Linked DNA regions of Homo sapiens: regions 1, 2 and 4 are each linked to region 3. Evidence: fine-mapped expression QTL. A gene starts in region 3. Each other region holds a variant in brackets. All regions are shown on one strand. Distances are between the middles of the regions.

Evidence for each region. PIP is the estimated chance that this variant, and not a neighbour inherited with it, causes the effect.
Region 1: its variant is the best candidate, but not a certain one, in a credible set for the expression of NUAK1 in whole blood (TOPMed, PIP 0.89).
Region 2: its variant is the best candidate, but not a certain one, in a credible set for the expression of NUAK1 in cerebellar hemisphere (GTEx, PIP 0.61).
Region 4: its variant is the best candidate, but not a certain one, in a credible set for the expression of NUAK1 in blood mononuclear cells (TOPMed, PIP 0.83).

The regions. Positions count from the first base shown.
Region 1 is chr12:106,069,920-106,078,026 of GRCh38, reverse strand. It overlaps NUAK1 (NUAK family kinase 1), which reads left to right. Exons shown (of 7, transcript NM_014840.3): 5 at 5,184-5,303; 6 at 7,121-7,253. Among named protein-coding and RNA genes, the nearest start is that of NUAK1, 65 kb to the left of the region's middle. The variant G/A (reference allele first, on the strand shown) is at 4,726.
Region 2 is chr12:106,046,061-106,054,167 of GRCh38, reverse strand. No RefSeq gene overlaps it. Among named protein-coding and RNA genes, the nearest start is that of NUAK1, 89 kb to the left of the region's middle. The variant G/A (reference allele first, on the strand shown) is at 4,680.
Region 3 is chr12:106,134,840-106,142,946 of GRCh38, reverse strand. NUAK1 (NUAK family kinase 1) reads left to right here and starts at 3,993. Exons shown (of 7, transcript NM_014840.3): 1 at 3,993-4,533. The coding sequence starts at 4,294. RefSeq lists enhancers at 2,052-2,671, 5,063-5,564, 7,982-8,107.
Region 4 is chr12:106,111,532-106,119,638 of GRCh38, reverse strand. The region is part of intron 1 of NUAK1 (NUAK family kinase 1); the gene reads left to right. Among named protein-coding and RNA genes, the nearest start is that of NUAK1, 23 kb to the left of the region's middle. RefSeq lists enhancers at 3,294-3,870, 3,871-4,447. The variant T/C (reference allele first, on the strand shown) is at 4,602.

The DNA.
Region 1 (8,107 bases), 65 kb after region 3:
GCGGTATTGCAATTCCATTTTCCAACAAAGGAATCTGAGACTCAGAGAGGTTAAATAAAGTAGTCATAGCTAACATTTACTGAAGGCCTACTGTGTGCTAGGTAGGCATGGTGTAAGCACTTCCATGAATCAGTTTATTTGGTTTGGTACCAGCACTTCCAGGTAGGTGACATTATTATCATCAACCCCACTTTACAGATGAAGAAATGCAGGCTTAGAATGGCTAATGTGCAAGTGCGTATTATACACTGGGGCTCTTGTGAAAATGCAGTTTTAGTGGATCTGGGGCAGGGCCTGAGTGTCTCAGTTTCTGAAATGTTCCGAGGTGATGCTAATGCTGCTGGTCCGTGGGCCAGATTGGAGTGGGGTGGGATTATCTAAAGCGCCTTGGGTTAGATGCTGGTACGAGGCAAGGCTGAGATTTGAACTCAAGTGCTCAAACCCTGAATCCTTTCCTTTTCCCATCCTATGATGCAGCTTCTCACTCTGAACGTGACTGTATTATAAATGAGTGGTAAGATCTCCTGGCTCTTTAATGGGCAGTGGCTTTAATGCTTTTGGTTCCCTGTTTGCCTGGTCTAACAAACGATTGTTAAGTCGGCCAAACCATCAGCCTTACCATAATGGCTGTAATTTATAGCGTCAGCTGGTCCCAGGACTATTCCAGGAGCTTTACATGCGTATTCTCTACTCTTCTTACCTATGTGAGGTGGGTTCTAGTCTGAGTGCCATTTTGCAGATGAGGAACTTGAGTGACTTGGCAGGTCCCACCCATCACCTAGTAACGACAAAGCCATGATTAGCCCCAGGTTCTCCTGGACCCAAAATGTCTGATCTGTGGAGTGCACCACACTTCCTCTTAAACACTGCAGATGACTGTTAGACCATCACTAATTATTATCATTGCCATCAGCATCCTTTCCTATCAGTTAATGTCAGCAAGGTGACACTTCAGTTTTCACCAGATGAGCTCATTATAAACAGTGTTCTGGAGTTAATCCTTTTATGGTGGTAAAATATATGTAACATCAAACTTACCAGTTTTAGGTACACAGTTCAGTGGCATTAAGTATACTCATATTGTTGTGTAGGCATTACCATCATCCATCTCTAGAATGTTTTCACCTTCCCCAGCTGAAACGCTGTCCCCACTGAATAGTAACTCCCCTTTCCCCCTCCTCCCAGCCACTGGCAACCTCCATTCTATTTTCCATCTCTGAATTCGACTACTCTAGGGACCTCATGTACATGGAATCATATATGTCCTTTTGTGTCTGGCTTATTTCACTTAGCATAACATCTTCAGGGTTCATCTGTGTTGTAGTGAGGTTAATCCTTTTGAAATGTGAATGAATAATTACTTCCTCATTTATCTTTCTAACCCCAATTTTCATGCAGTGGGGAACACCTCTGGAAAGGCTTGATAACAATAAAAACTCCAAATATTAAGGACCCGAGCCTTGAGTTCCGGGGCTCCTTTCGAGAATTGAGGCTGAACTGAATAGCACAGGGCAGGGGCAGAAGGTGGTTCTGAATCAGTATGGGGCAGGGGAGCAGTCAAAACAACAAGCAAAAATGCCAGCTAGGTAGGTACCTTTCTCCAAAGCTTGCCTGCTAGTGTGTCAGCAAAATTCTTCAGCCCAGTCGCCTCCTTGCTGGAAAGTCATCCTCTCCATTTGCAGCTGATGTTCTGTTGGAGAAACTGTACGGCTTGGGAAGACCCATGTGCTCCTTCATGTACTTGCTGCTGTTCTTTGCAACCTTTAGCAAAACTTCTTATGCCCTGGAACCTTCAGCTGCTTCACTTTTAGAGCGAGGGGCAGGATTAACATCTGTTAGGGCTCTTTCAGGTCAAAGTAATTCTGAGATTTTGTTTTATGATGTTTAAAATCAGTATTTCTCAAATTTCAGTTTGTCATCCTTTTCATGGATTTTTGCCTTTCCGCAGTATCCTCACTGCTATTTTACTTAATATTTTTGTTGAGTTCAGGTCACTTTTTAAAGTTCTGTCTATTTGAAAAAGAAGCCCTAAATAATTACCTTAAGTGGAAAACCAGTATCACTTACCATGAATAGAAGATAAGCTCAAAACTAAGTATAATGGAAACCAAATAGCATTCTGAAGTTCCAGCTTGATGTTGGTTGCTGCTGCAGGCTAGGCCGGAGGCCTGGTCTCTTTGATAAATGCTAAAGAGATACTGAAGACACACCAGTGCCCAACTGAGACCTTCTTCTTGACTTAATCCAAAGAACTGAAGGTGAATCCAGAAAGGAATGAATTTTTCATTTTATTATTCAAAGTTATTTAATTCCATTATTATTTGGCATCTGAAATTTCTCTATTTCTTCACTGTCAAGAGTCCCTGGCATTGGGATAAACTCTGCTTCTAGTATAACGAAGGTAATTAACTCCCTGGATTTAAAGTTGGGAAGCAAATATATATTGAGCTCCAACTCTGGGCCAATTACTGTTGTAAGGACTTTACATACTTTATGTCATTTAATCTCCACCATGACACAGTAGGGATAGACACTCTTCCTAACGCTATTTTACAGACGAGAAAACTGAAGCTTCAGAGAGGTTTCATAACCAGTGGCCATTTCCCCTCTTATCAATAGTTGATATAAGTTCCGTATGGCATTAAATCTTAGAGCCGAAGCCTAAGTTTGAATGGCTCAAGATCTGAGAACGCTCTCTCTCTCTCTCTGTGTGTGTGTGTGTGTGTGTGTGTGTGTGTGTTGATTAATACTGCTTTCCCATCGAAGTGCCAAGAACACAGGCTAATCTAGATTTCTATTAATCTTGTGTCAGTGGCAATGACAGTTTTACTGGGAGAGGCTGATAAACATCAGTCTGTGAGGATAGGAGTGGGCCATAACATAAACACACTTCTCCAGAACGGCTACAGAGCAAATGAGGCTGCCCAGACTTGGAATGAAAACTCCTGGTGTGAGTGTGTGCATGTGCAGCGGGTGCCTCTCACACGCACGTGTATTTGGAAGCTCATATGGTGCCCCAGGCACTGCCAGGCGGGAAGAGAATGCATTTTCCTGTGCGTAGCCATTCCATGCCTCTTCTGATTGACAGGGCACACTTCATAAAGCTTCCAACCAACTTCCTGCAAGCAAGTCAGGGGCCTTGATAAGAAAGTGGAATTCAGGGCAATGAAGTGCAATCTGAGCCCGGAGAATGCATTTTCTGAGGCTGGTTGTACACCAGCTGCTTTCAATGACATTCCATTCATTCAGGGATGACTTTTACAAAATAGGCTGCTTCTAGGGGCTGTGACCACCACAGAGCCTCGGTGGTATTCAGGCTGGGCTCTCTCTGGGCATGTGAATCATGCAGCTCATTTCCAAGCCTCAAATGGAAATCAGCTTGGAGAATGATGGAAACCTACAGGGGCTCAGCTTGCAAGGCTGGCTTAGAGTGGAGTGAAATATACAGGTGACCCAGGGACAGGGTGGCACTGTGGTTTGAAGCTTTAGAGACACGGGGGTTTATATTGCTGCATATTAGTTACTCATCTCCTTAAATGAGTAACCTCAAACTCCTTAAACCTCAATTTCCTCATCTGTTAAATGAGTTTTTCAAAAAATGTGTGGTAAAGTGGACATAACATAAAACTGACTATTTTAACCTTTTTTAGGCATGAAAGGCATTCACATTGCTGTGTAAACCAGGTTTTTGTTAAGATTAGATTAAATAAAGTGTTTGGAGCAGTACCTGATAATTGGAAGTTGTTCAAAAAGTGGCAACTAAGTTTATTATTATTATTATTATTTTGCATTATATATTAATTATCTTGTGCTTTTCAAAATATAATGCCTGTACCAGTGACAAGTGTTTCTTGGGTGTGGGCAGGTGCTAAGCAGTGGATGATACAAAGATAAGGGGAGGATGTGGAACCTGCCAACTGCCTCAGGAAACTCAGAGTCTGGTAGGGAAAGCAAATATATATATGTATATGTATGTATATATGTGTATATGTGTATATTTGTACATATGTGTACATATACATATACATATATATGTAAAAGTGCTGTCATAAATGATAACACATAAAACACTTCAAGAAACCAAAGGAGAAGAGAATGACTCCAAGGTGTGTGGAGTACAATGAAAACAAGGCTAGATGAAACATTTGCATCAAACTTGAAGGTTATGAACCACTGTTACACTCACGGTGTCATCTTATTTTTTTTTTTGAGATTGAATCTCGCTTTGTCGCCCAGGCTGGAGTGCAGTGGTGTGATTTTGGCTCACTGCAATCTCCGCCTCTCAGGTTTAAGTGATTCTCATGCCTCAGCCTCCCGAGTAGCTGAGATTACAGGCATGCACCACCACGCCCGGCTAATTTTTGTATTTTTAGTAGAGACGGGGTTTTTCCATGTTGGCCAGGCTGGTCTCGAATTCTTGACCTCAAGTGATCCGCCTGGCCAAGGTCTCATCTCGATTGATTTCTTTTTCTTATTATTCTCATGATGATCCTGTGAGCTAGAACAGGGAAGGGATCATGGATTCCCATTTTCTGGTGGGTAAACTGAGGCTCAAGGTCATTAAGTGACAGATAGGAGCAGAGTTGGGACTGAAATATGATGACTCAAAACCCAATGCTGTGAGTCAATTAGTCCATTTCATCTTGAGTCACAAGACAGGCAAAATACAGTTCTGATCAGGGTGTGAGTGGATACAGAGGTGGTATCACCAGTTGTGTAGGTCAG[G/A]GTTTTTCCGCAGTGTGATATGCACACCACCGCAGATGCAGCATAATTGGGTAGACCACAGAGGGAGAATTCTTAAATTAATAGTTACACACTTTAATGTTCATCAGAAACATCAAGCCAGTGATTTTGTGAATGTTATTTCTCAAAGCAAGTCTAAATTAAAGTTTAAATAGAGCATCCATTTAAAGAGTAATTTCTAAGTAAGTTGCAGAGCTTGTAGTCTGCAGATTTGGTAGAACTTGTGATGGATGCCAAGGACTGCAGCTAGGAAACACTGACCTGCTTGGGCTGAGTGGTCCTTTATGAAGACTCAGGGCTGGAGAGAAAATGGCGATCCAGCCAGCAGACCCACCCAGGTGCCCTTCATCCACTCTGTGTGCTGTGTGGTGTGAACTGATCCAACACAGACATAATCTGGAATGCTAACAAGTCTCCCTGGGTCTTGCTTCTCTTTGTAGATTGCTGACTTTGGGCTTTCCAACCTGTACCAGAAGGATAAGTTCTTACAAACGTTTTGTGGGAGTCCACTCTATGCATCTCCTGAGATTGTCAATGGGAGACCTTACCGAGGGCCAGAGGTGAGCAGCTTTCCCAATGTGTATGGGGCAGGGGAGGGGAGGGAGAAGAGGGAGGAAGGGCAAAAACTGGATTCGAGAAATGCTTAAAAAAACAGAGCCTAAAAAAGCCAGCAAGGAAAACGTTTCCTTATACGATTATAAAAGCAGTTAATGTATACTCCTGGGAGGAAATTTGGGAAACCCAGAAAAGCCTAAAGGAGAAAATAAAGGTACCTGCCATCCCCCTAGAAAAGATAATCACTTAAAACTCTAGTGACTTTTAAACTTTTCCCAATGTAGATCTCTGCATTTCAAAAATAATTGAGATCAAGTTAATAAAAGGCAAGATATACATATGTATGTGACACACGTATGTATATCTTGCCCTTTACTATGAAAACTATCTTGTGGCAATTTCCAAATTCATTATTAAAAACATGATTTTAATGACATTTTATCAATGAATATACCAAAATTTATTTAGTAATGTCTAGATGTGAACATTTAGTTTTTTCCCTATTATATCAAAACAGACAAAACAAACAAACAAAAAATTGCCTCACTCTGGGGTAAATATCTTTTTTGTATATATTTTTGGCAGCATGCATATCTGACTAAGGAAATACATTTTAATGACATCTTCTAATTCATGAGAAATACATTTCCCTACATGCTAGCGCTTTCAAGGGCCACTGTAAGATATGGGTATATGGAAATTTTATTTTGAAAATGAGTGAGTTGTGAGTGATGATTCTCTTTTTGAAAGATGGTTCTCTTTTCAGAGTTCATCCACTCAGTATCCTTTAAATAGCAGCTGCTCAGTGTGTTGAAATGTTTTCTTTCAAATATTTATGTGTTTGAGAGTGTTTGGGGGCAGGGCTGAAGGGTAAAGAGAAGGATGCCAAGACCATCTATTAACTGCAATGAAGAGAAAGTCTTTCTAAAATAAGAATGTGAGGGAGGAGCATAGAACTCAATTTACAAACTTGTAGAAACTCGACACGAAATTTCTCATAGATAATGAATATTTTGGTCTTCGATGACCTGTTTTTGAGGTTCCAGGCTAGCAGTCTGTGATCTGGTCAGCAAACTCCTTTATTTGGCCACCTTAGTTTTTATTAAAAAAATTGAACAAACATGTAATAATTGGGAGATTTCATGTAAAAGTTTGGTTTCTGACTTCTCTTGTAAAACCAAAGAATCGAGCAGTGCTGGGCCCATGTTACTACATGGCAGCAATTAGCTAAGGAGAGGCTGTCTGCCTAAGACGGGTGAATGTACTGTACAGTTTGTCTCCATCCCCAACACTCTATGTCATAACCCCAATTCTTTCTTGCTTTGTGTATATCTGTTAAGATTTCAGTTTGTAATTCCTGATTCATTTGAAGAAAGTGCAGGAAGGAATTGATTCCTGGATTAGGAATGAAGAGCCCCGCATCCCAGTTTTACCTCCGTCACTGGGGCAGGGCCTCTGGAGAAACCATTTAGGTTCTTCGTGCCTCAGTATTCTCATCTTTTAAATGGGGCTGAAAATAGTCCTGGCTCTAACTGCTTCACAAAATTGTAGTGAGGATTAAAGAAGATAATCTGTTTAAGAAAGTTCTTTACTAGTTGGGACCACTGGCCTCTGTTCAGAATGGAAAGGTCAGGCTCTGTAGCAGGTCCCAGCTGCATTGCTGTCAGGTGTCAGGCTGCACTAGGAACCTATCTTCCAGGTGCTAAATTCAGTTCCTGGGGCTGCTGGGGGTGGCTGCTCACAGGCTATGATGCTAATGGTTTGGAAGGCATCTTGGGATCTGTTTCCCAGCTCTCCTATATGTGCTGTCTCTCTGCTCCAGGTGGACAGCTGGGCCCTGGGTGTGTTGCTTTACACTCTTGTTTATGGAACAATGCCCTTCGATGGTTTCGATCACAAAAACCTCATTCGGCAAATCAGCAGCGGAGAGTACCGGGAGCCAACACAGCCCTCAGGTGCGTGCCCTGTGGAGGGAGGGTCAGAGGTGGAGGGGAGAGAGATCTGCTTACCCAACTCTTATTTTCTGCTTTTGTTTTAGTATGTCTGTCTGGAGTCACCTGGTTTTCCTCTTTCTTCTTCCCAGAAGTGTCATCCTTGGCAAAACTGGCTTATTAGGCTGCTTTCCCCAAACCTTCCCAAAGGAAATTTTCAGAGCACACCTTCTAGGAGTCCTGTTTGCTTGCTTTGTGGATCTGGACAAGTCACTTAATCTCTTTGGATTCAGATTCTCCACCATAAATAAAAACGTTGGAAAAGATATTAGATGAGGTCTCTCCCAGTCTGAGTAGACATAGAAACCACTCACCTGAGAATGTAAATACTGTGAGGGTGGCCACTGCTCTGTCTCTCACTACTGTGCCACTGGCATGGGGCATGGCTCATGGGTTCTGTCTCATTATTGATTTCTGTGTAACAACTCTACCCCATCTGCCCCTACAAAACAAACTCAGTGGCTTACACAACCATGAAATCATCTCTTTCACCCCTGTGGGTTGGGAAGTGCTCTTATGGCCTTCCTCTCCTACAGTTGTAAGCAGATGGCAGTTGGGGCTGCTGCTGGGGCTGAATGGTGGACCTTCCTCAGTGCTCTCTGAGGTGCCACCCCACAGTGGCAGCTTGGGGTTCTAAGAAGGAGGAATAAAAAGTTGCCGAGCTTTCTTTCTTTTTTTAAAATTTTTCTTGAGAGAGTGTCTCGCTCTGTTGCCCAGGCTGGAGTGCCAGTGCCATGTCCATGCTTGTACCCAGATTGTGTCACATCTGCTGTGTTCTATTGGTCAAGACAACCACGGTCATGAGCTTCATCTCTTGA
Region 2 (8,107 bases), 89 kb after region 3:
AGGTTAAGATGGTGCAATTGCCTGGTTTACTTTAGTTTTTGCTTTTATTGGTGATTATGGTCCTGTGTTACTTGTTGTTTAATGTCTGAAAACACTTCTTGAATATATTTTGTTCTCTTTGTAGATTGTGTTTTCAGTGGGTCAGGGTGTATCCCATAGGAGTTTCTCCTTCATGGGTAGAAGCAAAAGTTGAGATTAAGTCTTTTGCCCAATTACAAATAGATGTTAGCAGAACTGGGTCTAAAATCCAAATATGATAGACTTCATAGCCTGTGCCCTTCATCATGATCAAGATCCCATTCTTCCCTTTTTTGGACCACATTCCAGAAAGAAGGCAGGTAAGAACCCAGTCAGTAAAAAGCAAACTGGCTATTCTTAGTGCTACAATTCCAGTAAGAAGGATTAGGCAGGGAGTTTGCTGTTATAGTTGGTGACTTCTCAGAGGTGCCCTGCCAAAGTTAGCTTTTATTTATTTTCTTCCTTGTGAGTGAATGGAGAAATTATGGGGCAGTTCTTCATTTATTTGTTTGCTGGTTCATTAACTCTATCATTTATTCCTCCATTTAAGATTATTAATGGAAAACCTACTGTGTACCAGGCACTAGGTTTTTGTTGTTGTTTTGGGAGGGAAATGTAGCTCCCAGTGGGTTTTCCTTTGCTTTCTTCCTCTTCATTCTTTTACTCTCTCCCAAACTTTCAATATGATCATGTGGGAAAGGCCCAGATGGTGACATTTTAGGGATGTCTCCCTGGACCCTAGTGGAGTTTCTGGGTGGTTAGGAGAGAAGTTAGGGTCTCCTTTCAAATTAAAATAAATGCCAACATCCCTGGGAGGTATCATACATTAAGCCATTGTCAGCTAAGGCTTGGCCAGCTATTAATGTTTCAGGAGAGACTTATTAAGTGTTAATTAAGAGTAATCATGGAGAACAACATAGGCCCCTTGGGAAATGGGACAGGATGAGAAAGCAAAGGAATTCTCACAGGAAATGTGGCAAGGATAAACTCTGAAATTTTGTCTCAAGCTGAGACATATATGTCCCTTGTCTTCTTTGGTCTGAGTGTCATAATAATAACAAAGTTGAGTGATGCTTTGTAGGTTACAGGTCCCCCCTGCCCACTCATTTGTTTTTCTTGAAGCCACCTCTCAATAGCCCTTGGAGGTAAACATTAGTACTGTTGATGAAATGGAAATTGGAAGAAGGAAATTCACTGGCTCAAGTTGCCCAGCTGATAAGTGCTATGGTCTGAATTTGAACCCAGGCCATCTAACTCCAGAGCTTCTGGTCCTAATTCTGCTCTGCCATCTAAGCTTGCAAAGCTGCTTGCTATGACCAAATCATCTCTGTCTTCATTACTGGTTCTATCAGTTCAGCATTTTCCTGTGCAACTCCTTCACAGAGCACCAAGTTTGGTGTCCAAGGTGATTTGGGCTTTTTGCATGCATCCAGATAACTGTTGCCAACCTCAGGAACTATTTCTTCCTCTTTGTGGCTGGTTGATTGGAATGGGAGCAAAAAAGCAAGTCTGGCCAGCTACTTCGTGGAAGACCAAGAAATGACAAAGGACACAAGGATGTTCTTCTTTAAAGCTCTGTACAACATGCAGCCAACTAAATGGGAGTGAAAGTGCTTTTGAGGAGAAATAGGAATTAAACAATAGTCTATCGTCAGGTTTACTGCTGCTGGTAAACAGAATTCAAACATATTTGCGGGGTAAGACTCTAAGGCTATTTTTAAGAGAGGCACTAGCAGACATTCAACGAAGTCTAGATGGGTTAATGAAATAAATGCATTTCCTGCTTCTCCATGATTTATATTTCTAAGGCTGCACTACATAGTAATTCAATAAAGCTGAAACGGCAGGAATGTCTGGCAGATTTTTTGGAATATGATACTTGGCTCATTATGGTGGTTCAATTTCAGTATCTGGATAAGGGTCAGATACAAAGGGACATCAAGAACAATCTTTTTTTCTCTCTCTCTCTTTCAGCCTCTACCACTTCAGCATAGCCTGCTCCATCTCAACCTTATTCATGTCAGTATAATAGGTTATTATTAAAGGCTTCCTGAAGCTTATGGTCTATTTGAGAACGATGAGGTATTCACCGCCTGCCAATCATGCTCTTCACAATTAGGAAGTTTATGCCTCAGTTAATGGTTTTTCTTTTCCTCATGATGTAACAAGAGAATTTATCCTGTGAGTAATACTGGAATTCATCCTTATGGCCATTTTCCTCTGTTAGTGCCCCAGGGACTATTTGAAACCACTTCTTTGTGTGTGTATGTGAATATATATGTGAAACAGAGAGACTCGGGGGAGAGGGAGAAAGAGATGGGAGTGAGAGGGCAGAGAGAGGAGAAAGTATTAATCTCACAGAACTCTTAGTTTCCATTCTGATAGCATTTATTGACTATATAGTCTGTGCCCCTAATGGTCCTATAGTGGAAATCTATATGGTCCTATATGGAAATCTGCTTTGTGTCAGTTCTGTATCACTTCTTTTGGGATTCTGTTTCTCCCAAGGTAATGTGATTCAGTGGGACCTCACCTGGCTGTAATTACCTTTCACACTACAGGGACAAGGTCTTCACTCACTCTGACTAGTTCAATTTTTTTTTTCTTCTAGACCTAATAATTGGTTCAGTGTTCATTCTAAAGCCCAAACACGACCAATCAATGCCATTTGGGTGATCAAGTATGGATGTTGACGGGGAGGGATTTGTGATGATTGTTGTCATCATCTTCTCTTTCTTTCTTTTTTTTTTTTCTGGAATCACCATGAGGATGATGTAAACCTAGAGATACTACTGGTAGCCATTTTTATCACCAAGTGATAACAGAGATGGCCTGAGAATGAAGCCAAGAAAGAGCACCACAGAACTAAGAGAGTAAGTGAAATGCGTATTGTAGCATCATTTGATCTTCTGAGCCAGGTTGCCCCCAAAGCAAACACTAACCTGAGACTTCACAGTGATGAGAGTTATTCTCCTTTTTTGGGCTGAATTAGTTTGATTTGGGTTCTTGTCACTTGCAACAGAAGAACAGCTTCTGGATACCTGAACATGTGGAAGTTCCTGGAGGGTGGTGCACCCAGGAACTTGCACATGTTCCAAGCAAGAGAAAGCATGGAAACTCTGCACCCCTTCCCCTCATTCCTCACCCTAGTATCTCTTCATCTGTATCCTTTGCAATATCCTTTATAATAAACCAGTCAACTTAAGTTATTTCCCTGAGTTCTGGCTGCCTTAACAAATTAATTAAACCCAAAACAGGGGTCGTGGGAACCCCAACTTGAAGCCACTTGGTCAGAACTTCTAGAAGTCCAGACTTGTGACTGGTGTCTTGGTGCAGGAGAGAAAGGGAGTCTTGGGGACTGACCCTATCTCCAGGTAGATAGTGTTGGAATTGAATTGGAGGATGCCCAACTGGTGTCTGCTGCTTGGTGTGTGGGGACGAATCTCCACATCTTTGTTACAAAAGTCTTCTGTGTTGATGATTGTTGTGGTGGTGTGAAAGCAGAAGAAAAGCAAAGTTTGAGAGAGTTTTTCCCTACACAGATAGTAATGACAGTGTGAGGAAGGGAGCAGTTGCTGGACTCTAGAAGGAGAGAGCTATCAAGAGGGCTTCCTTGACAGGAGCTGTCACCAGGGAAAGCAGCCAGCCAGAGGTGAACTTGCAGGGAGGGAGCCTGGGAAATGACTGCTGAACCTCTGCTGAAGTCAGAGGGTGGATATCCCTTCCTGTAGTTGACACAGGTCAGCTTCCAAGGCTCAGAGCAGGTGGAGAATGCACCTGAAGGGGCATGATAGGGTTTGGCTGTATCTCCACCCAAATCTCATCTTGAATTGTAGCTCCCATAGTTCTCACATGTCTGGGAGGAACTTGGTGGAAGGTAATTGAATAATGGGGACAGGTTTTCCCCATGATGTTCTGGTGATAGTGAATAAGTCTCACGAGAGCTGAGCTGATGGTTTTATAAAGGGGAGTTCCCCTGCATACGCTCTCTTCTTGCCTGCCACCATGTGAGATGAGACCTTACTCCTCCTTGCCTTCTGCCATGATTGTGAGACCTCTCCGGCCATATGGAACTGTGAGTCAATTAAACCTCCTTCCTTTATAAATTAAACAGTCATGGGTATGTCCTTATTAGCAGCATGAGAACAGACTAATACAGGGCAAATAAGAGATCCTCAGTGGAGGTGCATGCTGTCACTGTCCCTATATTATAGATGAGGAAATCAGGGCTCAGTGAGGCCATGGTGATAACGGGCCAAAGATTGTATCAATCAGTAGCAAAGACAGATGGCAACTCAGTTCCCCGACCATAAAGCTGTGCTCAGCGTAGTCATCCTGGCCCTGGGGGTTTTGGCTGGACCTGTTTGCCTCTGAAAACAGACCCACAGGCCTGTGTGCCAGGCTGGAGGATGGGGACAGACATCGATTGGGCTTCTCCTTCTTGCCAGGCACTGTGCTAGGCATTTAACCCACAACAGGCCTATTGAGATAGGTGTTGCTGATTCCATTCTATATGTGAACAATCAGCCTCAGAGACGCTAAGTAACTTGCTCAAGGGTACACAGCTGATGAAGATACTGACCTAGGTTCCAGAGGTCAGATTCCAGAATCCTTGGTCTTTCCATTATATCCTGGGGCAGAGACCTAAGGAGCAGAAAGGG[G/A]AAAGGAGAGGGAGAGAGGGAGAGGCTGCTGTGCGAGTCATTTCGAGATGGTGGGCAGGAACGGGGGAGAATTCAGGTGGCAGCATCTTTCTTGGGCCCAGGAAGCATAAGGCATGTAGGCAGGAATCCCAGGGTGCCATCTGGAGTTCCAGAACATCCCTAAGCAGCCTTTATATCTGCAGGCCTGTGCTGGGCCGCAGACTCACATGAAAGCATAAAAGCCTTCTGCAGCAGATGGGAATTTGAAATCACGTGTTGTGAGCAGCCAGAGCCGGGAGCTGTGACTCCTGTGCGGCGCTGTCAGTATGTCTGAGACACTGCTTCTCGTCCTTCCTCCCCTGCCTGTCCTTTCCACTCTGAGTTTCTCCTCCCTCTCTCTCCTTTGCTTTCACTATTAAAATTTTATTTTATATATTTTTTATTTTATTTTAGCTTGAGTTTTCTCAAGTTTCCTCTGCCTCCTCCCTGGACATGGAGACACATCTTCACTTTGTTCTTCAGGCCTCTCAAATTCAACGTGTTCAAGTAAAAATCCCTTTCTTCTCACTTAGCAAATCTGCCTCTCCTCGTTGTTGGTTTTGCATTTTGCCTTCTGGCACGGGATGCCTGGATGGAAGGCTGGGAAGAGCCAGCTTTGCTTCCTGCCTCCCCTCTCCTTTCCCTCCCTCCATCTCTAGTTGGTTTCCTCATCACTCTCGGTGCCCCTTCTGCTTTCTCTGCCTGGTTTCCGCTCTCTTCATCTTTCACTGAAGCTCTTTAGATATTTTTGGAGCCGAGTCCCTGACTGCTTGGTCTCTTCTCTGCTTCCTCCAGCACATTGCCACAGATATCACTTGAAAACATTGTCCAGGTGATACCAACAGTTTTAGCAAGAAGAGAAAATGGAGGCATTTTCCAGGTGACTTTGGGAAGGAGAGTGTAGTGGGCAGGCTCACAGCCCCCACAAGACTCCAGCCCTAATTCTGGGGGCATTGCATGTTAGTTACTTCCATGGCAAAAGGGACTTTGCAGAGGAAATCTAGGTTAGCAATGAGTTGACTTAAGATAGGGACATTATCCTGGATTAGCCAGGTAGGCTCAGTGTAATCACACAAGCCCTTAATTGCAGAAGGGGAATGCAGAAGGGAAAGTCAGAGAGATTTTAAGAATGGGAAGGATTCAAAGCTCTGTTGCTGGCTTGAAGATGGAGGGGGTCCCAGGTCAAGGAAATGGGAACCTCAGTCCTACAGCTGGAAGGAGCTGAATTCTTTCAGCAACCCGAGTGAGCTTGGAAGGGGCTTCAGCCTAGAGCCTCTAGAAGAGAATGCAGCTCTGCAGGCACCTTTTCAGCCTTGTTAGATCCTGAGCAGAGTTCAGCCATGCCATGCCAGACATCTGAGCTACAGAACCCTGATATAATGAATGGTTTTTGTTTGTAAGCCCCTAAATTTGTGGTACTTTGTTATGGCAGCCCCAATACAAACTAATACAAATAGAAAACTAACACACACAAAAAAGCCAGAAAGATAAATCAGAAACCAATAATAATGATTATGTTTATGGTTATGAGGGAACAGAAATAGGAAGGAGACATCACTGACACACAGGGAAATTAGCATACACTGAACATTTGCTGCGGACCAGACACCATGCCAAGTCCTTTGACTGCTATACCAGACCGGGATCTGAGTTGTAAGGAATAGAAAGGGTCTTTGGCTAATCTAAGCCAGAAAGAAAATTTATGAAAGAATATAAGGCATCTCCCAGAAACTCCAAGAAGGCTGGAAAACAAGGCTTGGGAAATAGTTGGGAATATAGAGGAAGCAAGGTGGCCAGAACTCAGCCAAAATTGGACCATAGAGCCAGGGTGTTGGGTGGACCACAGCTACCCTGGCTGTCCCCTGGCATTGTGGCGGCTTTGCTACCACAGCCAGCTCTGGCCTTTGGCCATTGGGCATTGCTAGCGGTACCACTGCTCTAGAAAATGGGATGGTTCTGGTGAATACAGTATTGCCTAAATGGATCCTGCCTTGTCCCTGCGTCTGTGGATCATTACTTTGAGATTTAAAACTCTGAGCAGGTGTGTCTGGCTGGGTCACAGGCCCAGAAGGTTCAACTGCTGTGCAGCCAAAAAATGACTCACAGAAAATGGCAAATCATCCTGTACCATCTCATTTAATCCACATAACAACCCAGCAGGGAACTACTATTATCCCCACTTAATAGATAAGGAAACCAAGGCTGCCAGGAAGGTGAAGCTCCTTTCCCAAGATCCTGAGCTTGTACAGGGCAGAGCTCAAACTTGAACTCAGGTCACCTACTTTATATGCACATCCTGTGGCCTCTTCTTGCAGTGACAGTCAAGTTTCAGATCCTTTCTGAGGAAAGAAGAGGCAGGTGGATTCTATCTGGTGCGTGGTTCAGAGAACTCTGGGGAGACAGGTTGAATGGGAGCAGTAGCTGGCCAAACAGCTCTGACCCGTTTGCTTTTGAGGCTTGGGCATGGCAGAACTTTAATTATTTTTCCCTATTTAGTGAAATATGCTTTCAGACATCTGTTCTGAGTTGGTCCCCTTTTGTTAGTATATATTGTGTAGCATGGCCTACTCTCTCTCAACTTGAAATTTAGACAAGGGATGTTGAGGCTCTGCTGATGAGACCACCACTGGGGAACCTCATCTTCTGTCTTGCCTCTCCTTGCCCCCTTTACTGTCCTTCTCCACCAAGCATTGCAAAGGAAATGAGATGGAATCCCACCCACCTGGGACTCTGCCTGGGTACAATGGACGCTAATCATAGAGACCAGTCTGTGGGTTAGGGGCTCCACCCAGTGCACTCAGTACTCTGAGCCCTATCTGGCATCCTTAACACAGCTCTCTTCTCCTGCCCCATTATCCTCCCAGCTCTGAGCCAGGCCAGTGACAGAAAGAACAAAAAGAAGGCCTCGTTTGTGATCTATTTCCTGATTTGAGATATCTGGAGCAGGTCCAGTCATAGGCCACTGATTAAAAGTGGTTTAGTTACTGTCACTGGTGTGAGGACCAGGCTAAATGGAAACAAGCCAAGCTCAGGCTCCACAGAGAGGAAACCCCAATTCAAAAGTTCCCTGGGATGACCTCCAATAAAAACCATCTGTGAAGGTGACTTATGAGCACTGACAAGAATTGGTTCATTTAGGCGTTATTTATGATAAATATGCAATATATACGTATACTCAATATAGATATACATTCAATATTCAAATATAGAAAATAAATATTCGATACATAAATATTCACTAGTTTTGCACACATGTAGGCCTATGCAGTAGAGTTTAGGAATTAAGCATGTGAACTCTTGATCACCTACTCTGTGCTAGGCATCTGACACACATGATCTCACTTAGTGTTCACATCACTCTCCGAGGAGGATATCGTTGTGAATATCACTGATATTTTACAGGTAGCAAA
Region 3 (8,107 bases):
ACCAGTAATGAGCCTTATGTAAATAAAAGATGTAGGATAGTGTGGATGTCACACTTTCAAGTGCCAATGTTACTACATCTGTCCTGTATCCAAGAACAAAACCAGAAATCAGAGTCTAACCAAGCAGTATGATTAAACTGCTTAAAATTGCCCCAGGCCAGGCACGGTGGCTCATTCCTGTAATCCCAGCACTTTGGGAGGCCTAGGCAGGTGGGTCACCTGTGGTCAGGAGTTTGAGACCAGCCTGACCGACATGGTGAAACCTCGTCTCTATTGAAAATACAAAAAAATTAGCTGGGCGTGGTGGCACATGCCTGTAATTCCAGGTACTTGGGAGGCTGAGGCAGGGGAATTGCTTGAACTAGGGAGGCGGAGGTTGCAGTGAGCCAAGATCGTGCCATTGCACTCCAGCCTGGGTGACAAGAGTGAAATTCCATCGCAAAAAAAAAAAGGCTCCAAATTCTAGTAGGAGCTATGGAAGATGAAAAGTATCGTATTAATATCCACGATTTATTGAGTGGATATAGTCTAGCCCTTAATCCTCATACCAACCCTGTGGGATGTGTTATTGGCGTAATTGCTAATACCACATACATTGTTACTGTCAGGCCTCTGTGCCCAAGCCAAGCCATCGCATCCCCTGTGACTTGCACGTATACGCCCAGATGGCCTGAAGTAACTGAAGAATCAGAAAAGAAGTGAAAATGCCCTGCCCTGCCTTAACTGATGACATTCCACCACAAAAGAAGTGAAAATGGCCGGCCCTTGCCTTAAGTGATGACATTACCTTGTGAAAGTCCTTTTCCTGGCTCTTCCTGGCTCATCCTGGCTCAAAAAGCTCCCCCACTGAGCACCTCACGACCCCCACCCCTGCCCGCCAGAGAACAACCCCCCTTTCTTTGACTGTAATTTTCCTTTACCTACCCAAATCTTATAAAACGGCCCCACCCCTATCTCCCTTTGCTGACTCTCTTTTTGGACTCAGCCCGCCTGCACCCAGGTGATTAAAAGCTTTATTGCTCACACAAAGCCTGTTTGGTGGTCTCTTCACACAGACGCACATGAAAGTTACCATCGCCACTTTGCAGATTAGAGAACTGAGGCATAGAGGGGGAAAACAATTATCCAAGATGATCATAAGAGGTGGAACAGGGATTTGAACCTAGTCACTCTGCCTCTAGATCTGAAGCTCTTAATCAAGGAGCCTGGGCTCTTGTTGGAGAAAATGCTTTATCGATGTGAAAACATTCACACACAATGCCTGATAGCATTGTGCTGAAGTGTGGTTCCAATTATAAACGTGGTAGGAATTCAGTCTGGAGAGGAACTCCCAGTGCCTGGGCATGACTGTGTGCTAGGCATTGTACTGGGTGTTTTTCATCCTTCCCATTTAAGGAGACGGAGCATGGCATATATGAAAGGAGAAGGGGGAGCTTTGGAACTGGACAGGTAGGGTTTAAATCCTGGTCCTGCCATTTACAAACTGTGTAACCTCTGGGAAATTACTTAACCTTTCTGATACGGTTTCTTCAATTGAAAATAGGGATTGTAAACAGCTACTTTACAGAGGAGGGTTTACTGTCATAAAACAGTACCAGCCTATGGTAGATGATGCTGTTGATTCAATAGATACTGATGAAGTCCCACATATCTGGGAGTAACACTATCAGCCAGAATAAGCCAGGTTATGCTGCTTTAACAAATCCCACTGACTTAACATAAATAAAGTTTAATATTTGCTGACACTACTTTTCCAATGCAGATTGGCTGGGATTTTCTGCCATCTTTACACAGAGACTCAGGCTGGCTTGGGGAGGCTCCAACTTTGTACCACCATGATTGTCAAGATAGGAAAAAGAAGACATGGGGATTTGCTCACTGGCTCCTAAAGGTTCCAAGTGAAAGCAACACAATCACTTCTGCTCTCATTCCATTGGCCTAAGCAAGTCCGATGGTCTCATCTAACTTCAAGAGGATGGGGTAGTGGATTTCTACCACATCGCAGGGGAGGGGAAGAAGTAGAAAATATTTTAAAATACTACTGTAGACACAATGTGTTTATCTCTACAATAGATCTGCTAAATCCATATCTTAAGAGAAAACCGAAGCTCTGAGAGGTTATGTCATTTGACCAAGGCCACACAGCCAATCCTCTGGGAAGCCAGGACTCAACCTGCATGCCACTCATCCTGACTGTGGGATCTATAGGCACAACGTCCACAAACTGTATAGAAGCAGAACAGTTTCAGGATGGGGGTGGGTGGCAGGGAGGCCCTGCAAATGCGGTGGACAGAATAGGAATTGAATAGGCATGATGCGCCTTTGTGTCTGTGTTCTGTCATTGCTCCTGGGGAAGGGAAGAAGGGGCAGGGAAGTTTGTGTGAAATATCAGTAGAAGGAAAGTTTGGACAGGTAAGAATATCACGCGTCAGAGTACAGCAGAGACACGTGTGGAGGATGAGGGCAGTGTTTCAGGCCATTACTCTGGCAGCAGTGAGGAGGCTCCCGGGGAGGGTTGGGGAGAGCGGGCTGTTGCTGGAGTCCGGGGTAAGGTGACCAGGGGTAGACAGGAATGAAGGCGGCGGGAATGTAGAGGAAGGGCTGCACCTGAGAGCTGCAGAGGAGGCCCCAGTGAGGTCCACTGGTGGAAAAGAACCGCCATGCGATCTGCAGAACACCAGACCTTCTTCAGCCTTCACTCTTCCCACCCTAGTCTGGTACATTGCACCACTTGTTAAAAAAAAAAATTTCCCTAAGACCTCTTTTTCTCTAGCCTTCTTCCTTATTTTTCATGGTCTCTTCTTAGAACGGCGGCAGCCACGCCGCGGTGGGAGGCCCTTCCTGCCTGACCCTTACCGTGCGGGGTACCGTTCCTGTCACCATCGCCAGGATCTGGCCCTTTCAGTGAAAGGAAATCTCCCAAGGCCTAAGGAGGCAAGAGGCCTGCAAATCGCCTCCTGCTCAGCAAACGGGTTGCTCAGCAGGCCCGGGGTCCTGGTCCACCCCAGGTCCCTGGTTTGCCCACCTCCGATGGCGGCCTTCGCTGGCAGGGTGGGCGCCTCTGGGGAGCCAGCTCCGTCCCGGCGCCTTTAGAGCCCCATCTCTTCCACGTCCCTGGCCTTCCTCCCCTTCCAGGCGGCTGTCCCCGCCGGGGTCCAGATGGTGTCGGAGGGCCGGCGGTTCGACGGCGGGCCCGGGGTTCAGCCTCCCGGCCTCCCTCCGTCCCTGACTCTCCTTTCTTCGGAGAGGGCGCGGGGGCCGGGGCCAAAGCGCCGCTCTTGGGGTTCTCCTGGACTCGGAGTTGCCCCAGGCGGGCGCAGCTCTGCCCCGCGGGGTGCCAGCCTCGGGCGGGCAAGGTCCGTGAGTCACCGCCTGTAACCGAACACCAGGCCTCCCTGCCCCCTCCCCCAGCTCCGGCCGCCAGGCTGCGGCGACACCTACAAGAAAATGAAGGGGCGCCCAGGCCCGCGGCGGCCCCGGCCGTATCGCGAGCAGGTCCCGGCGGCCCCCGGCTCGCGGCGCTCTTTCTTCCCCGGCCCCGGGGCTCGGCCAGCCGCAACCGCCGCCCCGGCGCCAGCAGGAATCCAGGCCGAGCGACCGGCCCCGGAGCCCGAGGCGGCGGAGGGCCCGCGGTAGCTGCGACTGGCGAGCCCGAGAGCGCCCGGGGAGGGGGCGCCCGGCTTGGAATTTCCCGGTCCCTTCCGGCCCAGCGAGGACAAAGCACTCCTGGCCGCCGCCGCCGCCGCCGCCGTGGCCTACGCCGCGCCGCACAAAGGGCGAGTCGCGACACGCTCCCATCCCCCTCCCAGCTCACGGCGGCCCCGGCCCCGGGTGGCTGCAGGGAGGTGGGGGAAGCCCTGGCTGCACCGCCCCTCGCTCCCCCTCCCCTGGGGCCGCGCGAGCGCCGCCCCCGCCCCGTCTGCGCGTCCTCCCGGGGAGGGGTTGGGGGGCGCGGCGCCCCACATAACACTCCCCCTCCTGCGCTGCGAGCCACCCTCTCCCCTCCCTCCTGCAAACACCACCGCCTCCCCTGCCACCGCCGCCACCTCGCCCGACGCTCCACAGCTCGCCGCGGCCGGGGGGCGGTGCGCGGACCGTGCGCGCCGCGGGCGCCAGATGTGCAGTCCCCGCCGCCGCCAGTGACCGAGCCGCAGTCCGAGCGGTATCGGGCCGCCTCCCTGATGCTGCGGGGGCGACCTTGAGCGTACAGCGGCTTCCCTCGGTGGGGACCCCGACATCCCAGCGCTGTGCCCGGTCTTGCCCTCTGTAGCCCGGCTCGCCCCGCGCTTGGACATGGAAGGGGCCGCCGCGCCTGTGGCGGGGGACCGCCCCGACTTGGGGCTGGGGGCGCCGGGCTCTCCCCGAGAGGCGGTGGCGGGGGCGACTGCAGCCCTGGAGCCCAGGAAGCCGCACGGGGTGAAGCGGCATCACCACAAGCACAACTTGAAGCACCGCTACGAGCTGCAGGAGACCCTGGGCAAAGGCACCTACGGCAAAGTCAAGCGGGCCACCGAGAGGTTTTCTGGCCGAGTGGTGAGTGGGGCAATCCTGGAGGGTGCGGGGGGCGCTGGGTGGACGCGGCCGGGGACTGAGGGCGTGCGAGGCGGGGGTCTGTGCGCCCTGGGGCTCTCTTGACAGAGAGGGGGCTCATTGGGAAGCCCCGAGACAGACTCCTCACTCTTTCTCCAGCACCCCGTGACTCAGGCGTGTCTCTGTCCTGAAACACTTGTTACATCCTGTCTGCACATATTTTATTTTATTTTTTGGTTTGTTTTTAAAAATTTAATCCTAGCAGCAAAGGAATGTTTTAGATTTGCAAACACTTTGCAGCGTTGGGACGGCCGGGGTCTCTCTCCCTCGCAGGCACTCATTTAGACCATGCCCCGAAACGTCTTATTTCCACAACTCTCCAAAGAACCACATTCCCAGCTAGGAGCTAGCCCCTCAAGTCCGGTGTTTTGTAGGTGTCCCTACCCCCTTCCACCCATCTGCCCGCAGCTCCTTGCTCTGCATCCTCCCACTCAGACTCTGCATCGCCCTGATACTGCTGTGACTGCAAGGGAGGGCGACTCTTGCCTGTTTTTGAGACAAGGTTAGGGAGCAAAAATAAAGACTACTGCAAGCCTGAGGATTCTAACAGTTTGCATCATGGCTTTGGGAGGACCGAAATGTCCAGGGCATGGGTAGCTACAGAGATAGCTGTGCTTAGTTGCAGCAGGCTCAGTTGTGTTTCAGCTCCTGGTTGCAGGGCTACCAAACCGCTGAAGGGGTCTGGCCCCGCTGCTCTTGTGACAGCTGACACCCTGCCAGGGTCCTGGCACCATTTGCACAGCTCCAAGGAGTGCTTTGAGTGCCTTGGGGTCTGTCTGCCTTGTCCCAGCCTTGGTTTGTTGTTATTTTCACTTCTGCAGAACAGGCCCTTGAAATCCACACTGCTTGTGGCTAGAGAGTTGGGTTCAAAGTGACTGACTGTTGCAGAAAGATTTTGTGTGGTGTGTGGCAGAAAATTAACATGGTTCTTTGATTTGAAGCAGATCAGATGTATTCTAATCGATTTAGGGCCAAAGTCAGAAACTGATTATGGGACTCCTTGTGTGCACTTTTGGGGGTGTTTTGGAGGCTCAGGTTTGCTTATAAACAACAAATGACTGCAGGGAAAAAGGAAAATGAGCTGTCAAATAAAATAGCAGCTTAGTATTGACATGTTTCTTTTGCATTTCGGCAGGAACAGTTCTGTGAAAAAAACATGGGGGTGCCAGTCAGCAAAGTTCAGTCCCCAAATTCTCAAATATCTGGATACCCGGATAACGCCCTCCCAACCCATTTCTCAGATTTGATGTTTGGGTCTATATAACTTCGTCCCATAACGTTATTTTAAAAAAAAATCTGTTATCAATTAATTGGAAATTTGAGATGGCGTACATTTCTTTTTAAAGCTGGCTCTGTAATAAATTCTACAGCAAGCAAGTAGTTGAGAATTCACTCTGGGCAGGTGCCATTTTCGTAGGATGAAATTGTTAAAGGGGAGGGTTGTAAGGGTGGCCTCTGATGAAGGCAATTTCAGGTTTGTGGAAGAAGAGGCTGGGAAACGTGCACTTCATTCATGCTTTTCTTCTGAGGTGATATTCCCCAGGCTGGATGTTGAATAAGCAAAAACTAAGCTTAGATCCCTGCTCATGTTGTCTTAATAGCTGCTGAAGAATCGCACTGGGAAGGTGGGAAGCAGAATAATGAAAAACAGACGCAGTTCGAGCTGCAGGTTGAGAATGTGAGGCTATGAGGGGTTGTTGAAGTGGTAAGGGTGTGTCTAGGGTCTGTGAAGGGACCCCAAAGTCTAAATGCTGGGGCACTACCTCAGACCTTTCTAACGAACGAACCCTTGTCTTATGGCAGACGCCTTTCTGAGCGTCAGTGGGACTTCCTGTCAGGCGTTCTTGAGCTGTCTGATCCACAGACTAGGTTAGAGTGAAAGGGATTTGCATCAGTAGGCAGGAGTCCGCCTTTCTCTTTTGGGGGATGTCTTTCTCTGTATTTGCAGAAACTGAACATTCCGTCAGGATTTAGTCAAGCGGCCACGAGGGGGCGCCCTGAGAACGAGAGAGGCTTCTTTACCAGCCGCAAATCTGAAGTCCCGCTGTGTTATTGTTCAGCCCTAGTTCATTTTCCCATTGTGCTATTAATTTCAGCTAAATCTCTTGTTTTACCCCAAAATTATGTAAAGATTTTAAATCTGGCAGCAGACCCACGCCCAGAAACTGACAGTCTCTAAAATGCTTCGTTTATTCATGGGGCTGCTTTCTCCTTGATAGCTGAGCTTACAGAATGTTAGCCAGATCCCTGGGTAAAAACCTTGCATAAAACAGATGGGAAAACTGAGGTTTGGGGAAGGAAAGTCCTCCTTGGCCCCCCGTCCTCCCCCTGCTGAGCACACTGCTCACAGATGGTGTTAAGAACTTTAGTGAGAAACAGGAATTGTCAAGTGGAAAATTTCCTGTGACTGGCTGAACAGAAAATAACACCAAACAAACAAAAAATTGGTCAACGAGTTGTTCTTGCCCATACAGTGCCTGGTGACTCAGAACCTGTTAAGAGCAGTAAGACATTTTCATCTAAAATATGAACTTGGAGTTTTCTTCTGGTACCAGCGATGTGCTAAACATTCACAACATGCTTTGAAGGTGCAGTTGAGGAGAACTGAAAGGGCACTATCTTAATTTAGCCTTTTGATCTTTGGGTAGAATTTTGAAGTGATGTTTTATTTTCATTTGCACCAGTGCCTTTTACAGCATCTCTCAAGAGGAGCAGTGGTTCTAACGTGTTTTACTAATGTGAGTGGCCCAAGACAGGTGCCGAGTATGGGGTTGTATGAAATGCTGTGAAATCAACATCCCTGTTGAAAGCAGGGGTTCTTCTCAGAGAGGAGAGAAGTTTCTAAAAAATGAGGATGTGATGGTTTTTAATTGCATACCTGGAAGGACCTTCTGAATAAAACAAAACACAACACAGCATCATTTTCTATGTGCCGCGAAAGGCAGTTCTGAAGAGAAGTGCAGAATGAGATGCTTGGAGTCAGCTGGTGCGACCCTGTGTGTCGTCCAGGCACTCTCCTGCAGTCTTGCAGCCTCTGCTAAAGCATGTCCGTGAGACCAGGACTCAGAGTGGCTTGTTCCAGAGATGAACAAGCTCAAAAATGAGGCACTCTTGCAGAAAGGCAAAGAGCCCTGGCTTACATTCAAATCCTTGATCTATCCCCTACTAGCTTTGTGTCTTTTGGCAAGCTATGTGACTTTTTGAAACCTCAGCTTCTTCATCGGTAAAATGAGCTACTAAGAGTACCAACTTCATAGACTTGTGAGAACTGAATACAGTGATCTATATAAAACCTCAAAAGGGGACATTAATCAATTTAGTTCCTCCTTTTAGCAGATTTTTTTTCTCATCTCATTTTAGGATTTCATTAGATTTTAAGACCATCAGAGAGACAATGCATTGTATCATGCAGAGAGAGATAGAAGAAATAATCAACTTTTCAGAGTAATAAAATAAATACCAAATTAATTAGGGAGGTGTGTCCATAGGAAGATGAGATAATTAGCCAGATTCAGAT
Region 4 (8,107 bases), 23 kb after region 3:
TTAAAGATTAAGGGGAAAGTGAGTTGTCATGTCTTGCTTCTGTCAGTGAGGCTGTGTCTAGCAGCTTTCTAGTTCCATTTTTCCAGCTTCCCTACAGATTTTCTGTGAGTAAGCTTTCCTCGTAATTGTGTTAGTAGGAAAACTATGGGTGACGATCTGCAGGGGCGCCGTGCATGGAATCCATGGCATTTCTTTGAGTGGCATTTCTAAGGGCTTATTTCCATTCCCCAAAGTCTTCAGGGCTGAATGGCGCTCCAAGCATGAAGTCGTGTTTTCTGGGTAACAGGATGAGCCACCTTGGAGTAAATAGGGCTGGTCGGGGTCACTCAGTTAGGATGTGGCTGAGCTGGGTCTCTTGACTCAAGGTCAAGTGTATTTTCTATTTTGCTACCTCTTACCTGTGTTTTACACTACAGGTTAAGAGATAGTGGTTTTGGCATAAAGAAGCTATTGCTATATTTGGATAATTAAAACCAGGAAAAACCTACCTTTATCTCAGTCATCTATGTTGCTCAAGTGACAGATTTTTAGATTTCTTTTTTGAGGGAGTAAGAAGTAGAATTTAGTCCCCTTATTAGCATGCCAGACCCAGTCTCTGTTGGAACATCAGTCTTAGATTAATACTGAGATGGACTCAGAAATACACTTGAAAGCAACTTGCATTATTATCCTTACATAGCTTACATTTTATGACCTGCTTAAAGATGCAAGGAGCATAAATCTTGGGAAGGATGGTCTTATTTACTTGTTCGTCTTTTCTGCAGATGGGATGCTCACATTAGAGCCGGGCTGGCTTCAGATGTCTGCTCCAGGATATTTTAGCTGAACTGTATGAGTCCATTAAACAAATGTAAGAGTTTTTGGGAAAGAAGAGCAGTGTCTCAAACCAAATGTTTTACATGGAGAACATCTGGGGAATATTGGTATTTGTGTGTACAGTACATCAGAAAGCAGCTTGGCGGGGTTCCGCAGGGATGTTTCTGGCCTGTGGTTGCTGGATTTGACAGTTTTGTTGTAAGGGAATGGTTCTTATAAAGTATTGCCATCAAAGCAACGCTTGATCCAGGAAGGAGTGTCCTTGCTTAGCCGCACATTCAAATTGTTCTGATTAGCTCCCCGACCAGACCTTCCACGACATTTGAGCAATCTGCTATCTGAGCTAGTTTCCCCCAAGGCTTTACATTCCAGAGAAAGGAAGCATCACAATGCCAGGGCTAAGAGTGTTTTCTTCCTTACCACATATTTCCATAGATTTGACAAATGTGGAAACAGGCGTGGTCCAGTGGAAGCAGCATTGGCCACTGGATCCAAGTACCTGGGTTGAAACTTGGGTGGGGCCTTTGTGACCTGTGGAAACTTGGGGAGTTCTTGTTGGTTTCTGTTTTCCTCTCCTGCAAAATTTCTAGCTTATCTCATGGGGTGGTGGTGGGGGCAATAAAATGAAGTGGGATGACATTGTATCTATAGGTGGGAGGCCATTCATACAGCATGGTATTGCCTCCATGGATTTGTGGTCTTAGCCACAAGTACAGAGGCAACTTGGACCAGAGTGGAATCTGGGTAGACTGCCCGACTTCAGCAACTTGTAGATATTGGGCCAGGTAGTGGGTGGATAGGTAAGAAAGGAATAATTCTTATACAAATTAAGACTTACGATAGTCATCATTTTTTATAAAATTAAGCTCAACAAATATTTATTGGAAGTCTACTACTATAGAGCCAGATCCTTTCCTAGATATTGAGGACACAGAGGGGAACACAGCAGTTCCTGGCTTGCAGTCTCTGCTTGCTATGTCTGGGGCATTGACAATGAATGACCTTCCCTTTTGTTAGGCTATATACTGACTGTCATTGTGTAGCATGGACAGTGGCAGGTAAATAGTTTGTAGGTGTGAACATTATTTGGCAGAGAATGAAGCTGGACTTCCTGCACCTTTGTGCAAAGTAGGTCAATGTTATCCTTACTGAATCCCTCCCCTGAAATGGGATGAAGCTCCACAATAATTTGATATTGTATTTTTGTGGTGTTTGACGAAGTTATTATAAAAATGACATCTATGTGGGTCCTGAAGACTGCATTTCAACTAGTACCGGTCAAGTGAAGTAGGCCCATTTTATGGAGGAGATGACTGAGTGTAAGGCACGCAGTGTGAGAGAGAAGCAGCAGCAACACTGCCTTGGCTTTTTTTGGAAATGGGAAAATGAATAGCTGAGCAAAGTGAGACTCGGTTTTCTGGTTTGAACTGATAGTTATTTAGGAGTGTGAGAAAGACACAGGGATAGAAATGGGGGAGCCATGCATGGAATGACTTCTCAAGAGGCCCCATCTGTGTGCATACACATCATGTGTCTGTGGGCTCCCAAAAGAACACTTTGCTGGGATGGTTCTTGAAACCTTAGAAAGAGCATCTCCAGGGCTAGCTCTAGAGTTGTGTGCCTGCCTGTTGGCATGGGAGAGGGTGAAGTATCTTGGTCTCTTTCAAAAGGCATCTTGGGGGTAGGAATAGTCCTCACAGTGAAGTCAGGGTGTTCCTCCCAAAAGGAGAGTGAATAGGGAGGGGCTGGGCAGGGAGGAGCCCCTGTGTCTACTGGCCTTTCCAGTAGGATGGTAGGCAACTTGAAGGGTAGGTCTAGTTCATGTTCTCTAGGACTGGATCAATGCCTTATCCAGAACAGATTTTCCACAATTGCTTGCTGTGGAATCGACTCATTCTCACATCGTTTTAGGGACATGCCTCCCAGCCCCTCCCATACAATTCTGCCTTTTGCCCACCTGGTCCCACAGAAAGCAGCAGGAACACTGATTGATAGATGTGCTTTTGAAGATGGAAGTGGTTTAAATATTAGCTAACAAAAGGACTTCTGGTGGGGACAAGGCAGTGCGGCCTCGATGGGGCCTTCATGTCCAGAGGTTCTGATTCAGCTCATATTTATGTAACACCTACTATGTGCCAGGCACTGTGCTGATTGCTTTGTCAGTGTGCTTCAGAGGTTAAGAGTATGGTCTTTCAGCGTATGGAGACCCAGACCTCCTATTTATTTATGTGCCTTAGGGCACGTTACTTAACTTCCCTCAGACTCAGTTTATATTCATTGAGAAGGCAGAAATAATAATGTTTTTGTAAGAATTTAATGAGTGAGAGGTTGAGAGGCTTAACAGAAAGGTACTGAGGGCCTGGCACATAGTGAGGGCTTGATAACTGGTAATTATTATGACTGCTAGCTTTTATTGTGAATCACCCCCAACCCCTCTGGAGTGGGCACTGTTATTGTCTCCATTTGGAAGATGAGGAAGTTCAGGCTCAGTGATTTTGGGACAAGAAGGGATTCCACGTTTGAAAGGTGAGCAAGTAAAAGAAGGCTCAGCGGCAGATGGCTGGGGTTTAGGTTGGCTGGAATGATCAGATGTCCCACTATGGTTTTCTGTTTGTCAAGGGTCCTTCTTAATACTTGGGCTCCATTTTAGCAACAGCTTTTTTGTATATACTGTACATTAGGCACATGCTTAGTACTGGAGATGCCGTGGTGCATAAAACAGAAATGATTTTCGTGCAAATGAAGCTTATGAGCAATGGTGAGCGAGGTTATAAAAGGGGACCCATATCTGCAAAGGGGTCATTGCAGGGGATGGGCCATGTCTGCAGCAGATGGATGCAGAGGAGTTGGTCAACCGAAAATGTTAATGGCGAGGACAGGATGTGGAGGATCCTGGCAGAGAAAATGGCAGGTGCCATGTCTAGGGGCATGAGCACACTCCCCAACCCAGGGCACAACTAGGGTCTCCAAGATGACCACAGACCCCTGCCCCAGCCTCCTTGAGGGTAGGAACTGAGAGTTGAGTACTGGGCGAGGCTCATCCCCATGATGGGACGGCAGGAAATGCTCGTCTGGGGCCGAGCACACTCCTCAGCTCAGCCTGCGGTTTCTTGGGGCTGTGCATTTGCAATGAGCAAGAGCATCCCAGCAGGCAGGCTTGTGGAGCACTAATGAGGGAGATGACAAGCCTCCCGATGGATCTTGCAACGGGCTGGGGAGGAGGGACCAGCCTTTTAACTCTAGGAATAATGGACAATGAGAGCTTCTCTTGGAAGGAAAAAGATGCTTGTGAGGAGATAATGAGAGAGGCCTCGGGGGCTCCTGAGTGCTCTCCAGAGGCTTTGGGGGACGGACTGCAGCCTGCACGGTTGCTCCCGCCCTATCTGATAGGTCTTGTACATTGCTATAAATCAGTTTTCTAAACAGAAGAGATTCTGTCTGGATAAAAATAACTTCTGCAGAATCTTCTCTTTCACTTATTTATAAAACCATTCATGATTAGAATATAAAATAAGATAGAAAGTCATGCCTCTTTTTAGCTTGTTGTATTTTACCATATTAAGAAATGAAGAAAAGTTTTTTTGGTTCTGCTCACCTGGATCAGCTAAACTCAACTGACTAATTTCCTTTCCCTTTGGAAAACTAATTTTGCTTCTTAGGTTTTTGTGTTCCTAGCTCATTGTCCCCAAGGTTAGTGATTCAGTAGTGGCCTGAAGTTATCATTTAATAGCAGTGTTTGCAATGAATTAAGAAATAATAGGATGAAAACTTCCCAAGTATGCGTA[T/C]TCATGGGTGATATTAAATCAGTCTTCAGAAATTGGAGGAAAGTTTGGATAGAACTGAACTGAAAACAGCGTCTCTGGCATAGCTATGTGAGGACAGACATTAGATGGAGGTGAAATACACCAAGCTGCAGCACAAGTCATGATTTGTCAGCACCCTGAAGAGTATCTGCCACTCCCATCTCGGTTTATTAATGATGCAACAGTTCTGGGGACTTGGCTGTGACTGGAGCCAGCCTCCCATGTAAATGTTGAATTTTTTTTGTGGCAGTTTCAGCCCTGCTGCTCACTGTGGCTTAGTATTTGATTAGGAAGGACCCCTTGCTCAGAGTGTTTATCCCTCCTGGAGTGGGAATCAGGACTCTCTTGTTGCAATTCCAGTGCTGCTGATAACTTCGTGAACTTGGGGCCTGTATGTACTTTAACCTCCCTGGGACTCAGTTTCCCCATCTGTAACATGAGGAGATTGGCATAGAGCATTCTAAGTCCTTACAGCTCTAACATCTACTCATGATAACAGTCCTCATTTTGGCTTCTGCCGTAGGTACTATTTGCCTTCTCTGCCTTCCATCATATACACAATCTGCCATGTTGCCACAGCAACCTTGTGAGGTTGGTACCATCATCATCCTCATTTGCAGGTGAGGAAACTGAGCCGGTGGCGTGATTATCCGAGTCCCTCTCCTTATAGGAGTCGCCTTGGCTGGGTTGCTGTGACTGATGACAAGCCCAAGGTGCAGATGCTGGATTTCTTAGCAGTACTGGCTCGGGTTCTTCTGGGTTTGGAGGTTGATAAATAAAAGTTGCACAACCTTAAGCTTATCCAAGCCTTGTTATAAACAGTGTCAGAGTGATCAGATGCTACCAGTTGAGGCTGTCCAAGTTGTAAGCAACCTCAGCCCTCTGGCCCAGCCCTTTCTCTCCCTTCCCAGGGCAATTGTAACCTGGAAGAAAAACAGTTGCACTTTAGAATTCTGATTTGGTGTTGCATTTGGCTTCAGAGACGTGAACGTCCAAAAATAAACAGCTGCTTGGCAACTCCAGTCTCAGCTAAATGGCCTGGCATTTTCAGTCTTTCTTTGAATCTGATATTGTCTGTGTTAGCGTCTCTTGTGTTACCAGAGGCTTTTTCGTGCTCCGGGTTATGTGTAGACTGTGAAGTAACCCATCCACACCCACATTCCCTGGCATCACTTCATCCACAGGCCCTCCTTGGGCTGGGACTAGGGAGATACCCATTGGAAGCAAACTTTCCATTTACCAGGGGTAAATTAATTCAAGTCACTGAGCCCCCTCAAGGAAGCCTGTGTTTAATTCCTCTGTGTATAAATGGAAGGTTCATTAATTTTCATCAGTCATCTAGTATGTAATATAACTGCTTCCTGTTTAAGCTACAGAACAATAGGTGTCGTCAGGGCCACATTTACCCTGCTTTAAGGTGACTGCTCTCAAACCTCAGAGTGCAGCAGAATCACCTGGGAGGCTGTAAAGAATGCTGATACCAGGTCTGCCCCCTACCCTGAACACTGCCACCTTCATTCACTAGCTCTGGGGTGGGCCCAGGAATCTGCATTTTAGCAATCAGTTTCCCCTTTCCCCCTAACCAGGGGATCGGAGGCAGGTGATCTGCTCACCACCCTTGGACAGATAGTGCTCTAGAGTCTCTGACTGTCCTTTTCAGGCGGGTTTGTGGCTCACTTTTGGCATGCCCACTCAGCACGAACTTTCCGGTGGCCTTTTTGCTATTTCTTTGGTTCTTGCCTGGTCAGCCACGGTTTGTATCTTATGTTTACAAACCTCAACAGGGAGTGTGAATCTGCCCACGGTTTCTTAGTCATTAATTCCACTTCCCTTGTGGCATCACCACTTGCAATGACATTCTTAGCTCAGTCTTTGAAGGGGAGAGGGGTGGGGGTGAGTCTTAGAGACCAAGGAATGACTGTCCCTGTAGATAAAAATGTCCCAGCCCTGAGGTCCTCCTGAGCTGGCCCAGGCCCAGTCAAGCACGAATCTGCTTTGTTTTTTATGTTCTGAAAATAGAATGCATTTTTTATGGCAGGAGAGAAATCAATATCATCACAGGAATCATCATCTCTTTTATGTAGAATTTTGAGAAATAGAGGTTTGAGAACCAAGTTACAGAGGATTAAATTTTCAGAACCTCTTACAACATTAAAGGGCTGATGAGGGCCAGTGAGGGGATGCCACTCTTTGAAGGAAAAGCTCCTAGCTACACATACCATGCTCCCTGGCTTCAGTGCCTCGCCTCAGAGCCTGTTGATACAACTCTTGGCTTCCAATCCATTTCTTTCTGAAATACATTCATGTAGGACATGAACCAACAGGCTAAAGAGGAAGGGAAGAAGAGGCCCATGGGCCCCCAGGCAGAGCTGGCTTGGTTCCCATGGGGCCCGTTGCATCACAGCAACTTGCTGGGGTGTTGTTCTGAGTTGGCCAGGCCCCTCCATAAAGAGCCCGGGGTCATTTAATTAATTAGGGGCTTTGTTTGCAAGATGGGTGGCATCACCGTGGTGACTGTCCTCGGCCAGAGGCTTTTTGAGTGAAAGCCACATGGTGATCCTGGGAGCTTTGGACCGGTGTGGCCTCGGTGGGGCTGTGCCTTGCCCCACACTCTGTGCATCTCCCAGGCAAGAGCAGGAGCACTTTACAGCCTCCAGCCGGGCTTGGCTGCCTGCTCCTGCTGCAGGCGGCCTCTGGGCTCCTAGGTAAGGAGAGATCCCCTGAGCTGCCTCTGACTTCGTGCCCTGCAGCTCCCGTGGAACGTGCCTGGGTATGAGATCACACCTTGTGAATGGCAGGGAAGTTGCCAGCTCGTGTTGCTGGGATTAGGATGCAAACTTGTTCTCACTAAGTGATGCTAATGCCATATTTATGACTGTGTTTCTTCCCTGCTGCTCAGCCCTCCAGTCCCTCCTTTTGGGACCTCACATATGACCCTGTAAAACTTCATCTGCTTGGAGGGGGGTCCATCTCACTAGGCTTTAGGGACCCTTTCGGATCCTACAGGAGATTCTGTTCCCTGTGATGTTTTCTATTCATCCCAACTTTATTCATAGCCTTAAAAATCAGCAGCCTCTGGGCTCGAATTCTAGCTCCACTTTTTTTTTTTTTTTTTTTACAGGCTATGTAACTTTGGGAAATATTTATCTTTCCTGGCCTCAATGTTCTCATCTGTAAAATAGGATTGTAGGTAGGCTTAAATGAGATAAGGTCCACTGGCACATGATTAACACCTAAGAAATATTAATTATTGCTATTATTAAGAATATTGCCACTGATTTAAAAATGTTGAGGGTCAAAGACGAAGCACTAAGACCTGGCTACTCCAAGTGTGGTCCCTGGGGCTGGCATCACCTGGGACCTTGCTGGAAATGCAGAATCCCAGGCTGGATACCCAGACCTATGGATTCAGAATCTGCACTTTTTCAAGATGCATGGGTGACTCCTATTTGAGAGGCACTTCAAGAATACTCCTTGAAGTCCAGCTT